2 separate regions of the Homo sapiens genome follow, and region 2 is linked to region 1. The links come from fine-mapping of genetic effects on gene expression. Tissue or cell type: whole blood. Region 1 holds a variant in brackets; the other region holds the start of a gene. All regions are shown on one strand. Distances are from middle to middle.

Region 1 (8,105 bases):
ACCTGGATGAGCGTCGAGGGTTGAGAGCCTGGGAGAACGCTGCAGAGCTGGAGTGAGCTGGTGAGGGCTGGTCACTTGGGGAGGGAGCGGAACCCTGGGAGGAGAACGCTGGAGGAATTGGGATCAGGCAGGCTCGGCATCCCCAAGGCTACATTGGCCTTGGGGCATGACAGGAGGGCCTAGGTATCCCCAGGCGCTCGGGGCTGGGAGGAGAGCCACATGGGCACCTCATCGGCCCCCTTGGCTGAATTTGAACAATCACTTGATGTTGACGTTGCCAGATTCCTCCAGGTCAAAGCGGGAGCCAGGGGCGGGGGGAGATGACAGGAGGCAGCATTGATAAGTTTGTAATGTTGGATTTCGGGGTGTAGACTGGGCGTGATGGCTCGTGCTTGTCATCCCAGCACTTTGGGCGGCTGAGATGGGCTGATCGCTTGAGCCCAGGAGTTCAAGACCAGCCTGGGCAACATGGCGAAACCTTGTCTCCACCAAAAATACAAACATTTGCACCGCGTGGTGGCTCGAAGAGAGTTGGAGGCGGAGGTCCTCACATGGAGGAGGCCGTGGAAGTGGGTAGTTGCTCTGGATGGGTGATGAAGGCACCAAGGGTGCCGGTGGGGGCTGAGGCAGAGAGAGATGGAAGGTACATTTTCCGCCATGGCCTGGGGGTTAGTGAATACCAGTCTGCAAGGTGACAAGAGGGAGGTGTAGCTATGTAGCTAGATGAGGTCGCATACCAGTGTGGTCCGCCAAGATTGAATGATGGAAGGGAGAGCGTTTCCTGGTGTTTTGTGCCGGACCGCTCTGCCCCTAGTTGTATTTTCTGGACTGCGTTCCAATATTATTTTCAGTTGTTGTTCTGGAGCCACGCACTGCCTGGTAAGGGCTGATTGGTGTTGTCTCTGTCTCCCACCTTGAACCAGAGCCCGTGTCTGAGGGCCGCGTGGGACGAATGCGGGGATTCCGAGGACGACGTAGGTTCTGTAACCCACGATACGAGGAGGTGCTGTAGAAAGCCGTTTGACTGCGTCCTCCCAAAACTGCCACTTTAATTTCTGGTTGTGCTGAGATTACAGGGCTTTTTCCTCGTGTTACAATAACACGTTTTCTAGCATCTTAAGGAATGATTGCCCTGCATTGACAGAGTATTGTAATAAAAGCTGTTTAATTGGAATAATCATTCCAGAACCTTTTTTTTGTTTTGTTTTGAGACAGAGTCTCACTCTGTCACCAGGCTGGAGTACAGTGGCACAATCTCGGCTCACTGCAACCTCTGCCTCCCTAGTTCAAGCTATTCTCCTGCTTCAGCCTCCCAAGGAACTGGGACTACAGGTGCCCGCCATGACGCCCGGCTGATTTTTGTATTTGTAGTAGAGACGGGCTTTCACCATGTTAGCCAGGATGGTCTCGATCTCCTGACCTCGTGATCCACCCTCAGCCTCCCAAAGTGCTGGGATTACAGGTGTGAGCCACCGAGCCTGGCTGAAACATTTTTTTTTTTTAAAGCAATAGGGTCTTACTCTGTTGCCCAGGCTGGAGTGCAGTGGTGCAATCATAGCTCACTGCAGCCTCAAACTCCTGGCCTCAAGTGATCCTCCCGCCTCAGCCTCCCGAGTAGCTGGGACTACAGGCGCACGCCACCTTGCCTGGCTGCAGAGACATTTTTAATGAGGAAGGAGGCTGTGGAAACGTAGTTTAACTTACTTTGTTTTCTGAGTCCTTAAATTCACCAAGGATTCAACAAACACCCGCCCCCCCACCCCCGGCCTTTTTTTTTTTTTGAGACTGAGTCTCTGTCTCCCAGGCTGGAGTGCGGTGGCGCGATCTCAGCTCACTGCAGCCTCTGCCTCCCGGGTGCAAGCGATTCTCGTGCCTCAGCCTCCTGAGTAGCTGGGATTACAGCCGCCCACCACCGCGCCTGGATAATTTTTGTATTTTTAGTAGAGACAGGTTTTCATCGTGTTGGCCAGACTGCTCTTGAACTGTTGGCCTCAGGTGATCCGCCCGCCTCGGCCTCACTTTCTGGGATTACAGGCATGAGCCACTGCGCCCGGCCTCAACCAAACCCTTTTTAAGTCAAGAAATTAAGACAAAAAGTAGCTGGAATGAAAGTGAGTGATTGACTCGGGAGCCAAATGGAAATGGGAGTCACGGCCTCCCTGAGCCCAGTTCACGAAGGAGATGAAACGCTGCGATGAAACTCGCTGATGGATCGTGCGCTCCTCCCATTTCCTTCCGACCCTCCCGCCTTTTCCTCCAAACCGAACGTTACAAAGGAAAATAATCTTAATCAAGACCAGACCCCTTTGGGCCCAGGGTTCTGGGGCTGTTTCTGGCACAACGGCCAGGCCCAGCACAGCCTGGTTTGTGATTGTTTGATTACAGGAGGAAAATGCTGTGTTGTTTTGGGGGAGGTGATATTGAGTGTTCTCGTGTTTCTTTTGTCTGTTTTTGGCCCATCTTCTTAGTAGGATCATGTTATGAGTTATTTTCTGGTTTAGACACACAACTTTTAAAACTGAAACTGAGATTTCCTTTATGCTGCAAATACGGAGTGAGTTTTTGTGATGTGCCGGGCCCTGCCGTGAGCCATGTGTCTTCCATAAAGTACGAGCTCAGTAAACATTTTATTATTATCCATTAGGGGTTCTTGTCAACAAAACTGAATACAGACCACATTCTTCTTCACCAGTACGCAGTCCCCTTTGTTTGGAACGGGAGTCCCCCCTCTCCTGTCGCTTATCCCCTTTCCCATCCGCCCTTGTCCCCACCTCTGCGAGGCCTTCCTGGGGAGCGAGAGCCACGCCCGCCTGTTGTGCCAGTACGCGCCCCTTGTAGGGCTGGAACCTGGGGTGTCCGTCTAGGAGGTCGGATTGGGTAGGGAAGCTCGCCTGCAGCGGGTGGCCTACATTGGGTTGAGATGGTGACGTGCGTCTGAGCCACGTCCTTGTGGGAGAGCTGGGAATCGAGCCTGTAGACACCAGTGCTAAGTTCAAAGAGTGGGTGGAGATAAAAAATGGGCGTAGGGTGGGACAGCAGGTCCAGAAGGAAGAGGAGGAGCTGGTGTGGTTTCCACAGACGACAGTGTGGGGCTGCTCTGTGAGTTTAGGTTCATGAGTAAAGATGTGAGCGGCGGCTCCCGCCTGTTCTTTCAGAGGCCCAGCACTTTCAGAGGCCAAGGCAGGCGGATCACGAGGTCAAGAGATTGAGACCAGCCTGGCCAACATGGTGAAACCCCGTCTCTACTAAAAATACAAAAAATTAGCTGGGCATGGTGGCGGGCGCCTGTAGTCCCAGCTGCTCGGGAGGCTGAGGCAGGAGAATCGCTTGAACCCGCGAGGCGGAGGCCACGGCGAGCCGAGGTCGCGCCATTGCACTCCAGCCTGGGCTACAGAAAAAAAAAAAAAAGATGTGAGCTCAGGCGTGGAACACCTCATTCCTTGGTTCACTTAGGAACAGGGAATCTTGTTGGAGGCAAAGCGGATGTTTGATTTGTAGCTTCAGCATGTATAACAGAACAGGACACACAGGGAATGTCTGATAATGTGATTAATGAATGAAGATAAAGACCCACCAAAAATACCCACCTTCAAGGTGGTTTGAAAATTTACAACGAAGAGGTTAGGGTGGTAACTAACCTAGAGGCCTGTTGGTTGCTGTAATTTTTTTTTAGAGATGAAGTTTCTCTCTGTTGCCCAGGCCGGAGTGCAATGGCATAACCTCAGCTCACTGCAACCTCCACCTCCCGGGTTCAAGTGATTCTCCTGCCTCAGCCCCCGAAGTGGCTGGGATTACAGATGTCCGCCACCACACCTGGCTAGTTTTTTGTATTTTTAGTGGAGACCTCAGGTGATCCACCTGCCTCGGCCTCCAAAAGTGCTGGGATTACGGGCGTGAGCCACCGTGCCCGGCCAGCTGCTGTAATTTGTGAGCTTAATGTTAAAATCCTGAGTGCTTTGCAGGGATCCCTGGGATCCCCAAACACTTAAAACTGATTCCTTGGATATTTACAGTAGCTACTGCAGCTGGGGTGCAATTTCACATTTTACCAGGAGGGACTGTCTGAAATCTCCTTCATTTTTAAGTTTTGGAATGTGTTTATATTTATTTTCCTTTTTTTTAGTTTGGTAACTTTGAAATGTCATACGTTAATTTTACGTAAAACAAGGGATTTGACTTTGACTCATTTCCAAAAGGCCCCTTGCAGGGAAAATTGTCTTTTAAATTGTTTTAAATAATCTCATTTTCAGCAGGAAGAAGTAGAAAGGATAAAATGGATCCTGCACCACGGGAACCTCACAGCACCTCACTCCTTGTGGCTTTTCCTGTTTGATACTCTGCTTTCTGAAAGATGCAATTTTCTGCCTCCATTTCTGTTGCCGACGTGCCAGGATTTCTAGCAAAGTGGGCCTAGAGTTTTGCTGGAGGTTACTTTTCCTTGGAAGCAATTCAAATACAATCATCATTCTGTTTCTCCCTTTTCATTCGACATTTGAGTAGAACAATGGCTTGGCAGCCAGACAGGCGCTCTTAAGAGCTTCAGTGTTTTTATCTTTGCCTTTTGAGAAGTGCCTTTACAAAATGTGGTTTAAAATTGAGCCTACAAACAAAAACACAGAACCGATTGCTTGGAGACCAAAACTCTAGGGACAAGGACAAAAGAACTGG[G/C]AGAGGGGGAGCAGCTGGAAGTTCCAGCTCTGACACCATAAGTGGCCGCCCATTTTAGGGGAAGTTTCGGCTCTGACACCATAAGTGGCCGCCCATTTTAGGGGAAGTTTCACCTGGAAGCCCCAGCTCTGGCCCCATAAGTGGTCAGGCATTTTAGTGTTGCACTAACTGGTCTCTGCCTTCTTGGTTTATTGCCAAGTTTCCAGCCCTGGGGTATCCTTGTTATTTACTTTCCTCCTGCACCAAAGCTCGGAAGCGTTACACTATGTACTCATTCATTCTCACTTTTACTCCTTTCTTAGAAATAATTTCCTAGAGTCCAGGTGTGGTGTCTTATATCTGTAATCCCAGCACTTTGGGAGGCTGAGGCAGGTTGATTGCCTGAGCCCAAGAGTTTGAGACCAGTCTGGGCAACATGGCAAAACCCAGTCTTTACAAAAAAATACAAAAATTAGCTGGGTGTGATGGCACACTCCCGTAGTCCCAGCTACTTGGGAGGCGGAGGCAGGAGGATTGTCTGAGCCCAGGAGGTGGAGGTTGCAGTGAGCCGAGATGACTCCAGCCTGGGCGACAGAGTGAGACTCTATCTCAGAAAGAAAGAGAGAAAGAATTCCTAGAGGTCATGCTAATCATAATCCCACTTATTCTCAACTATAAAATCCTCAACTGGCCGGGTGCAGTGGCTCACGCCTGTAATCCCAGCACTTTTGGAGGCTGAGGTGGACCTATCACGAGGTCAGAAGTTCGAGGCCAGCCTGGCCAATATGGTGAAACCCCATTTCTACTAAAAATACAAAAAATGAGCTTGGCGTTGTGGCGGGTGCCTGTATTCCCAGCTATTTGGGAGGCTGAGGCAGGAGAATCTCTTGAACCTGGGAGGCAGAAGTTGGAGTGAGCCGAGATCGCACCACTGCACTCCAGCCTGGCGAGCGAGACTTTGTCTAAAAAAAAAAATCAACTCTGAAATTTTTCCAGTACAAGTGTCTGCGATTTCACCCCCTTTAATATTTTAGGAAAACTCATCTCACTTGCTTGCTTTATTTGCCTGTGCTGTTGGTTCCACGCACTCATCAGCTCCTCCAGGGGAAGCCCTGGTTCCCCACATCCAGCTCCGCCTCCTCTACACCCAACAGTCTTGCTTCCCACATCACGGTACGCTCCCTGTTAACTCGCTTGCTGAGTTAATGACCTCACTCAATGGACTGTGGACTCTTTGAAGGTCAGAAGCGAGTCTCTGCTCCTCATCTTTGTCTCCGCCTGGTTCGATGCTCAGCACAAGGTAGCATTTCATACATGTTTGTTGAATTGTGTATATTCCTGTCTCCTCTAGGAACCTTGCTTGCGCTACCAATTACAGACCTCGGTGTTTGCCTTTGACCTTGCCTCTACTGTCTCATTGCATACTTCTCGCCTTAAAAAGAATCTTCCTTCTGGCCGGGCGTGGTAGCTTGTGCCTGTAATACCAGCACTTTGGGAGGCTGTGGCGGGTGGATCACCTGAGGTCAGGAGTTTGAGACCAGCCTGGCCAACACGGTAAAACCCTATTTCTACTAAAAATACAAAAATTAGCTGGGCGTGGTGGCGGGTGCCTGTAATCCCAGCACTTTGGGAGGCTGAGGTAGGCGAGTCACCTGAGGTCAGGAGTGCGAGACCAGCCTGGCCAACGTGGCGAAACCCCATCTCTATTAAAAATACAAAAATTAGCTGGGCGTGGTGGCGGGCGCCTGTAATCCCAGCACTTTGGGAGGCTGAGGTAGGTGAGTCACTTGAGGTTGGGAGTTCGAGAGCAGCCTGGCCAATGTGGCGAAACCCTGTCTCTATTAAAAATACAAAAATTAGCTGGGTGTGGTGGTGGGTGTCTGGAGTCCCAGCTACCCGGGAGGCTGAGGCTGGAGAATCACTTGAACTCAGGAGCCGGAGGTTGCAGTAGGCCAAGATTGTGCCACTGCACTCCAGTCTGGGCGACAGGGCGAGACTCTGTCTCAAAAATAAAAATAAAAATAAATAATAAAATAAAAATCTTCCGCGAGTTTGGGAGGACACGCCGTTATAATGAATGTCCTTGCACTTAAGTAAGTGAGTTTATGCCAGTGTAGATGGAAAGGGCAATTGTTTACACATTTTTTTTCTGCTTCATTTTTGTCTGCTCTTTTACTACAAGGATAAGAAAGAGCAGGTGCCAGGAGAGAAAAGTCATCTGAGAAGGGTCCCGGTCTCTGCATTGCCTGGGGACGTGGGGGTAGGTGGAGAACCTGCCTCTTTATCGGTTCCCGGTCTCTGCATTGCCTGGGGACGTGGGGGTAGGTGGAGAACCTGCCTCCTTATCCTCTTTTCCTTTGGTCTCTGTTGTGCCACGATGTCTCTGGGAAACTGACCGACTCTCCTTTCTCAGCCTGTTGCTCTCTGTCTGTCGTGTTGAGGAGTCTCTGCTGTGGGCAGGGGCCGACATCTTCATCTGTGATCACTTCTGTGTTGAAACAGCTAAGCCAGCGCTAGAGGCAAAAAGGGTTCCCAGACTCTGGAAAACTGACAAGCGAATGGACTTTTCAGACTCCAGGAGAAAATGGGCCATCCTGGGCTGTGGGGGTGCTCTGTGGATGAGTTCTGTCATTTGGGAGCTGGCAGTGGTTTGGTGATCAACTGTTGGCTTTTCCAGATTTTACAAAATCGGGAAGGATTTTTGGTGACTCATGAATTTTCTGTTCAATTTTACTTCTCCTAATAAGAAGTTAGCCTCTATTTATGTTCAGAGAATTAATCTAGATTTTATTGGTGACTATAAAAGAGATGACTGTAATATAAAACTTCTATATGGTCCAAAATACCAGAAACCAGATCAAATGATAAACCCTAGGGTGAGAAAAGATATTTCCAACGTATATGACAGAGAAAAGTGCTATTTTTCTTTTCTTTCTTTCTTTTTTCCGTCCTTTCCTTTCTCTTTTCTCCTTTCCTTGTTTCACTCTGTCGCCCAGGCTGGAGTGCGGTGGTGCAATCTTGGCTCACTGCAAGCTCCATCTCCCGGGTTCAAGCGATTCTCCTGCCTCAGCCTCCCGAGTAGCTGGGATTACAGACACGTACCACCACGCCCGGCTAATTTTTCGTATTTTTAGTAGAGACGGGGTTTCACCATGTTGGCCAGGCTGGTCTCGAACTCCTGACCTCAGGTGATCCGCCCGCATCGGCCTCCCAAATGTAATCTTCATGCTGGGATTACAGGTGTGAGCCACTGCCCACTGGCCTGTTTTTTTTCTTAATGCATAAAGAGCTTTTAAAATCAATTTGGGTAAAGAATTTGAACAGAGAAAGACACATAAACATGAAAAGATGCCTGGTTCTGTTTGCAATTAAAGAAGTACAACTTTTGAAATATGTGATTATTAAACTGGCAAAAGGAACATTTGATAACATACAGTGTTGGCAAGGATGTAGACGGG
Region 2 (8,105 bases), 63 kb before region 1:
ACCAAGGCCGGGTGGTGGCTCATGCCTGTAATCCCAGAACTTTGGGAGGCTGAGGCGGGTGGATCACTTGAGGCCAGGAGTTTGAGACCAGCCTGGCCAGTATGGTGAAAACCCCGTCTCTATTAAAGATACAAAAAATTGGCCAGGCTTGGTGGCGGACGCCTGTAATCCCAGCTACTCCAGAGGCTGAGGCAGAGAATTGCTTAAACCTGGAGGGGCGGAGCTTGCAGTGAGCCGAGATCGCGCCACTGCACTCCAGCTTGGGCAACAGAGCAAGACTCTGTTGCAAAAAACAAACAAACAAAACAAAACAAAAAAATTAGTGCATGCCAGTAATCCCAGCTATTTGGGAGGTGGTGCATGCCTGTAATCCCAGCTACTCGAGAGGCTGAGGCAGGAGAATCACTTGAATCTGGTAGGCAGAGGTTGCAGGAGCTGAGATCGCACCACTGCACTCCAGCCTGGGCAACAGAGTGAGACTCTGTCTGTAGGGACCAGCCCCACAGGGTCAGTGGGTCTCTCCCCGTGTGCGGAGACGAGAGAGTGTAGAAATAAAGACACAAGACAAAGAGATAAAAGGCAGCTGGGCCTGGGGAACCACTACCACCAAGTCGCGGAGACCGGTAGTGGTCCCAAATGCCAGGCTGCACTGATATTTATTGGATACAAGACAAAGGGGCAGGATAAGGAGAGTGAGCCATCTCCAATGATAGGTAAGGTCATGTGGGTCACGTGTCCACTGGACAGGGGGCCCTTCCCTGCCTGGCAGCCGAGGCAGAGAGAGAGAGGAGACAAAGAGAGAAACAGCTTCCACCATTATTAGAGACTTTTAGTACTTTCACTAATTTGCTACTGCTATCTAGAAGGCAGAGCCAGGTGTACAGAATGGAACATGAAGGCGGACTAGGAGCGTGACCACTGAAGCACAGCATCACAGGGAGACAGTTAGGCCTCCGGATAATTGTGGGCGAACCTGCAGTCAGGCCCTCCACAAGAGGTGGAGGAGTAGAGTCTTCTCTAAACTCCCCCCGGGGAAAGGGAGACTCCCTTTCCCGGTCTGCTAAGTAGCGGGTGTTTTTCCTTGACACTTACGCTACCGCTACACCACAGTCCGCCTGGCCACGGGTGTCTTCCCAGACGCTGGTGTTACCGCTAGACCAAGGAGCCCTCTGGTAGCCCTGTCTGGGCATAACAGAAGGCTCGCACTCTTGTCTTCTGGTCACTCCTCACTATGTCCCCTCAGCTCCTATCTCTGTATGGCCTGGTTTTCCCTAGATTATGATTATAGAGCGAGGATCATTATAATATGGGAATAAAGAGTAATTGCTACAAACTAATGATTAATGATATTCATATATAAGCCTATCTAAGATCTATATCTGGTATAACTATTCTTATTTTATATTTTATTACACTGGAACGGCTTGTGTCCTCGGTCTCTTGCCTCAGCGCCTGGGTGGCCTGCCGCCCACACTGTCTCAAAATAAATAAATAAATAAATAAATAAATAAATAAAGTTTTCACTAAAAAGTGATGCTTTCTGTGTGTGTTTTATAATATTGTCCCTACAGTGGCACAGACTTTCAGCATGAAAGTCTCCTGAGAATTAAGGTGGAATTCGACTTTGCAGTAGGATTCTAGGGTGTTCGAAGGCGGTCCTCCATCTAAGATCTTACCTGTGTCATTAGCAATACCAGCAGGTGACTAAGGAAGTGGATATAACTTGTAGAGACGCCAGTCCACTTTCCGCTCCCATCTCCACCTCTCCCAATTGTTTTATATGGTAACATTTCACCAAGCTGGAACCCTGCACCATTCCTTATTCTACCCTAGAAAAACGGAGAACCTTCGATGTGAACACTTACGTTTTGTGCCAAAAGCTTGAAGTTCTATTCTGAGGTTTAAATTAGCTCCCGCAAAGCGTCCTATCATTTGTGTATGTGGAAAGCTGCTGTAAAATAAAAGCATTGTGCCTGGTGTCCCGGCAGTGTCTTTTCACAAATGGAGTTTGGTCGGCCTCATTTTTCACTCTTTCCATTAGGTGGCGATGGATGCACAGGAAATATCCTCCGAAGCGGCGGTGGAAGCTCTGAGAGGGGCGGGTTTTCAGCTTTTATTTTTTTGCTTTCGCTGAGTCGTCAGTAGCTGATCCACACCGGCGGCCTGTTACTGTGGCTGGGCCCGGATCTGCACCTGCTTCGTGCACCAGTGGGTTGGGTTGGGGGGAGGCGCTGCGTGGCCAGAGTACTCGCCACGGACCACCTGTTTTTTTGTTTTTTTTGAGACGGAGTCTTGCTCTGTTGCCCAGGCTGGAGTGCAATGGAGCGATCTCGGCTCACTGCAGCCTCCGTCTCCCGGCTTCACGCCATTCTCCTACCTCAGCCTCCTGAGTTGCTCGGATTACAGGTGCCTGCCACTACACCCCGCTAATTTTTGTATTTTTAGTAGAGGCGGGGGGGGGGTGTCACCATATTGGCCAGGCTGGTCTCGAACTCCTGACCTTGTGATCCACCCACCTCGGCCTCCCAAAGTGCTGGGAATTCAGGCGTGAGCCACCGCGCCCGGCCCAGACCACCTGTTTAATCCAGCTTCTCCCTAAGCATTGGGGAGCATCCTGCCAGCTGGTAGGAAAAAAAAAATCTCTAGAAATGTTCTCAACTATCCATAGACTTGACATGAGGATGGAGCGGATTCAGGAGCGCGGCCAGCATTGGTCTGGAGGCCCCGCGGCGTCCTTTGCATCCATTTGTGGGGCTGGAAGACAGATTCGCTGGGGGGAGAGGCCCCGGCGACCCCTGGACGGAAATCCCACACTGAGACCTGGCACCCTAACCAGACCCCACCAGAAGCTGCGAGGGCGTCCTCGGCCCCCTTAGAACAGCTTGGAACACACAGAGGAGTCAGTGTCCAGCCAGGCCCGGCCTGATGCAGTGAGGACGGCGGGTCCTATAAGCATCTCAGGGTCAGTGGGGCCCGGAGCGGCCTAAGGGTCAGGCTTCGTGCAGGGAGAGGAGGAGGGAAAGGCCGGGGAGGAACAGGAAGAGGGTGAAGAGCTCCGCGGGGAGGGGGCGGGATCCCTGGAGGTCTGGAGGGAATTTAGAACTGGGGAGGAGAGAAAATGCGGGCCGGGCTGCAGCCCGGGAAAGCGCCGGCTCAGCGGGCCCTTCTCCTTTCTTCACTTCGGCCGTGGGCTTTCCAGGGAGAGTGCGGCGTTTCGGGTCCGGCTTCTCGCCCAAGCAGTCACCCCGCGCACCGCGGCCGGCAGCTGCGGACCCCGCCTGGGCGGAGAGCTCTGGCCACCGCCGGCCGCAAACGGGGCGTGGCGAGGGCGGAGGGGGCGTGGCGAGGGCGGGCGGAGGGGCGTGGCGAGGGCAGCCGAAGGGGCGTGGCGCGGGCCGCGGAGGGGGCGTGGCAGGGCGGGGGAAGGGGCGTGGCGCGGGCAGGCGGAGGGGGCGTGGCGTGGGCGGCCCTACTGGGCCGGGCTCTGCTCTCCCCAGCGCCTGCCGCCGACGCCGCCGCCTCCTCCCGCCGCGCGGACCGTGGAGCGGGGTCGCAGCCGCCTGCCCGCCCTGCGGTGGGCCAGGATGTCGGGCTTCCTGGAGGAGCTGCTCGGCGAGAAGCTGGTGACGGGCGGCGGCGAGGAGGTGGACGTGCACTCGCTGGGCGCCCGCGGCATCTCGCTGCTGGGTCTCTACTTCGGCTGCAGCCTCAGCGCCCCCTGCGCGCAGCTCAGCGCCAGCCTGGCCGCCTTCTACGGGCGCCTGCGGGGGGACGCGGCGGCCGGGCCGGGGCCGGGAGCGGGGGCCGGGGCGGCGGCGGAGCCCGAGCCGCGGCGGCGCCTGGAGATCGTCTTCGTGTCCTCGGACCAGGACCAGCGGCAGTGGCAGGACTTCGTGCGGGACATGCCGTGGCTGGCGCTGCCCTACAAGGAGAAGCACAGGAAGGTGAGCGGCGCGGGCCTCGCCGGCCCCTGCCCGCCCCCCACGCCCGTTACCCCTGCCCGCCCCCCACGCCCGTTACCCCTGCCCTCCGCCAACCCCGTTGTCCCCCTGCCCGCCCTCCACCCCCCGACCCCTGCCCCCAGTCCCCCGCCCCCCGACCCACTGTCCTCTCCCCGCCCCCCACCCCGCCGTCCCCGCCTCTGCCCCCCCCCCTTCCGCGCTGTGCCCGCACCCTCATCCCAGGACCCCTCTTTGGTTCGAGTGCTGCGCTGCGCCCGCCCTGGAAAGTTGGACCCCCCTCGGCCCCCGGGATCCCGGCTCGAGCCCCTCCGTCCGCACACGCTGGGAGCCTCGGGTGGGGGCGGCTGCGCTCGGGGATCCCGGTTCCGCGACCCCTTCACCCGCGAGCAGAGGCGCCAGGCCCTTCCTGCCTCCGCCGCCGACCCCCGCGGATTCCCACAGTGGGGAGGGGAGGGGAGGGGAGGGCGCACGCCCCCCGCCCGTGGCGCCCAAACCAGCGCGTTTCCTTTCTTTCCGGGAGAAACCTGCCTTCCCGGAGCCCCTTCCCCGGGGACCGGGGACCTGGGGGCCGAGGCCGAGGTCAGGAGAGGCGGCCGGTGACCGTGGCCGTGGCTGTGGCCGAGAAGGGCGCTCACGGCTCCGTCTCCCGCCCCCGCCTCCCCCGCCCCAGGCTGAGTTCGCGGCCACCGGGGAGCTTTGCATTGTCTGGCCGTCCAGCCTCCTCCCCAGACGCCTCCCGGGCGCGGGAACAGCCCGGGCTGTGCAGAGCTCAGCTGCGTGGTGGCCCCTGTGGTCCCGGGGTCTTCGAGTTAAGGGCTGAGCTGACCCCATCGATGCACATTGACTGGAAGAAGGAGGATTTGGGGAAATGGATACTTTGCTGTCAACTTCTCGTGTCTCCCAGTTTGCTGCCGAGTTGAGTTTGGGTTTCTGAGTGTGTCCCTTGGGTGAGGATGTCTGTCTCTGTGATAATAAAGCACATCCAGGACATTTTGTAATGAATGGAGTCAGAAAAAGTTTTGGAGCGCTGTTGCTTCGTGAGTGTATATGATGCAACGTGTGAATCCAGCCCCTTTCCCTTTTTGAGGAAAGCCTGTTTCTGGAGTGGACAGAAGGGCTATTCTGGGGGCGTTTAGTTTCCTCTGGGGAGCATGGCGAGGCGTGCCACGTGTTCCTTTTATATGTGCAGAATCTTGTTGAGAAGCATGATTTAGATTTACTGGGAGCAAAAGGCTTACACTGTGACCCCAAATGTCTTGAGTAAATCATCCATCCCGAAGCAGTGGGAGGTAGAGATTCGAGATTTAAAGTATGAAATACAGTTGATCCGATGCAGTTTGTAAATTTCATATTGGGAAAACATAGGTTCACTAACCACTCAGAGGCAAGAGTTGGCATTTTTACTGCTTTTTAGGTTATTTTGCCCATTTTGATTGACATGCTTGATATAGTATGAATATGCATGGCCAGTACTTTTTGATTCAAAATACGAGAATCCTTTGTTTTCCTTGGTGGTGGTTTTTGTGATACGTTCGTGGAGAAATAATGTTCAGAAAGGGATTTGCCAAAAAACATTTTCATTGTTACGGCAAGTTTCTGTTGTAGACTAAAGTCTACTTAAAATAATGTCCTTATCCGGCAATACAAATGATTTCTAGCTTTTGAAAACATAGAATTATGGTAAAATGTTACAGGCTTAACAGCCTATTGTTGTGTTTTTTACTGAAGAGGAAATACATTTTTTGGATAGTAAAAATATGGAGCAAACAGATGTTTTGCAAATGCTTAGAGCTTTTTCCGAAAAAGGAGAATATTTGATAGGACATGGGCCATGGCTGGCTCTCTATACCCTGGACAGGCTCTTTGCATGACAAAAAGTATTCTGCGGCCCTAGCCTGGACCTGCTGATTCCTCCATGATGAGAACCTGGATGACACAGGGCAGACTCTCATTTGAAAATACCGTTGAGAGTGCTGGACGTGCCCAAACCCTGGTGCGTTAGCATCTTAAACATTTTATTTTTTGGCCCAGAGTTTTTCTGACTCACATCCTATACTTTATTCTCTAAAACCAGTCCAGTTTTCAAGGAGGTAGTTTCTTTCCTTGGTCGTGAACAAACCACTCAAGATCTTTCTCGGGGATATATACCAGGTAAAAAGACTCCAGCTGTCCTTCTTATGGAACACATACTCTTGGAAATTACAAAAGCTACGTGCTGATTTTAAAAGGAATTATTGCCGGGTGCGGTGGCTCATGCCTGTTATCCCAGCACTTTGGAAGGCTGAGGTGGGCGGATCACCTGAGGTCGGGAGTTCCAGACCAGCCTGACCAACATGGAGAAACCCCGTCTCTACTAAAAATACAAAATTAGCCAGACCTGGTGGCGCATGCCTCTAGTCCCAGCTACTAGGGAGGCTGAGGCAGGAGAATCGCTTGAACCTGGGAGGCGGAGGTTGCGGTGAGCCGAGATCGCACCATTGCACCCCAGTCTGGGCAACAAGAGCGAAACTCTGTCTCAAAAAAAAAAAAAAAGGAATTATTTTCCCCCTTGAAACCAAAGAGATGTGGAACAAATGCCTTTTCTGTAACTGAGTTTTTGTCTCATTTGAAGTTAGGGTGCTTAGAAGCCCGTGAGCTAATGATGCTAATTTCCCCATCAGAACAAGTGAAGAGCCGGAGTTCTCCCAGCTGAGGGCACTGGATGGGTGAACACGTCTTGTGGATGGACTCTATCCGTGTCATTTCGCCAATGATAAAAATAACTCTAGAGAAGGGAATTTTGTTTTACACTGAAGGGAAACCAGAGTTCCAGATTGCTAATTTTTTTTAAATTCTCATTAACATTTGTTCTTTAAGCCCATGCGTATACTTCTTCCCATTGGGATAACAAAGGGTATGGTTCTAATTAGTTATTGGCTGGCATTTCTCTAAAGAAAATTGAAAAATTATGGTGGGGAAAGAAAATGCTGTGTGGTATTTCTTTTTTTCTTTTATTAATTTCTCCTTTATATAGTTAAAAAAAACCTGGGGATGACCGTATATGTTAAGCCTGCATTTTGCCTGGTTCCTCTCACCTTGACAGGAACTGTGAGAAAACACCAAAAAAAAAAAGGACAAAAATGTAAAAAAACATTCTTTATACAAAATTGTCCTGTTTCTGCCTGTTGTCATGGTAGGTACAAAAGTAATTGAAGCTTAATTTTTTTGGCTTCCAAAACACATATTATTTCAGCTTCCAAAACACACATTATTATATAGCTGTGCATAAATTGTAATTAGATGGTAATAGAACTTTGAGAGCATTTATAACAATTTCATCAGCAAATCTATAATCCTGAAGTTAAGGCAGTTAGACTTGTTTTAATAAGTAGGTTGGTAGATGATTTTCACATTTCTAGAGAGAAGGAATGTGATCGATAGTCAGGAGGTGGTGAAATTTGGACTTTGGGGATTTGGTCTTCCCTTTGGATTAGTATGTTACTCACTCGTCAAGACTGGAGAGGTCCGTCTCCGGGATCCACTTCAGCCTCATAGAAGTGAGCACTCTTTTGGTGTTAAAGTCGCAGAGCTCAACTTTGTCTGGGCTGGATGCCTGATCAAAAACATATGGTCAGTGTGGGTGCACTGACATCCAAGGGTGCAGACCACTGGCTTCCTCTGGACAGTTTTGTGAGGCTCTGGTGTGGCCCCAGGACTTCCTGCATGACAAAGGGGAAGAGAAAGTCTGCAGAGTCAGGGGACCCTGGTCCAGTATCCCTGGTCAGCCTGCTCCAGCCAGGGGAAGTGGAGTCTCACTCTGGCTGCTCTGGGTGGTTCTTTCAGTTCAGACTCAATGAGAAGCTTGGCTGAGAATTTACTTGAATCCCTTTGGCCCTATGGGTGGGACAGGATTTGGTAGCAACCTCAACATTCTTACAACTCCAGCTCTGCCACTCTTCCTTGAATCCAAACACTGCAGCCAGGAAGAGAACAGTTGCTGTGACACCACTGTATCTTTTCTTTGCATTCACTTTCAAGGTGGGAAAAGATGGCAAAAAGGTGCAGATTTGAAAATTAGGATTTTCTGCCTTCTTCATAAGAAGCCCGGACCAGCCAGGACAGGCTCCCACTGGTGACTGTGTTTCTAGGACTTGGGCCAGTCTT

The links. PIP is the estimated chance that this variant, and not a neighbour inherited with it, causes the effect.
Region 2: it holds the start of NXN, and the variant in region 1 is fine-mapped to the expression of NXN in whole blood (TOPMed, PIP above 0.99).

Annotation. Positions count from the first base shown.
Region 1 is chr17:912,465-920,569 of GRCh38, reverse strand. All of the region lies in intron 1 of NXN (nucleoredoxin), which reads left to right. Among named protein-coding and RNA genes, the nearest start is that of NXN, 63 kb to the left of the region's middle. RefSeq lists an enhancer at 1,524-2,041. The variant G/C (reference allele first, on the strand shown) is at 4,669.
Region 2 is chr17:975,158-983,262 of GRCh38, reverse strand. NXN (nucleoredoxin) reads left to right here and starts at 3,487. Exons shown (of 8, transcript NM_022463.5): 1 at 3,487-3,944. The coding sequence starts at 3,585. RefSeq lists enhancers at 1,920-2,214, 3,639-4,574.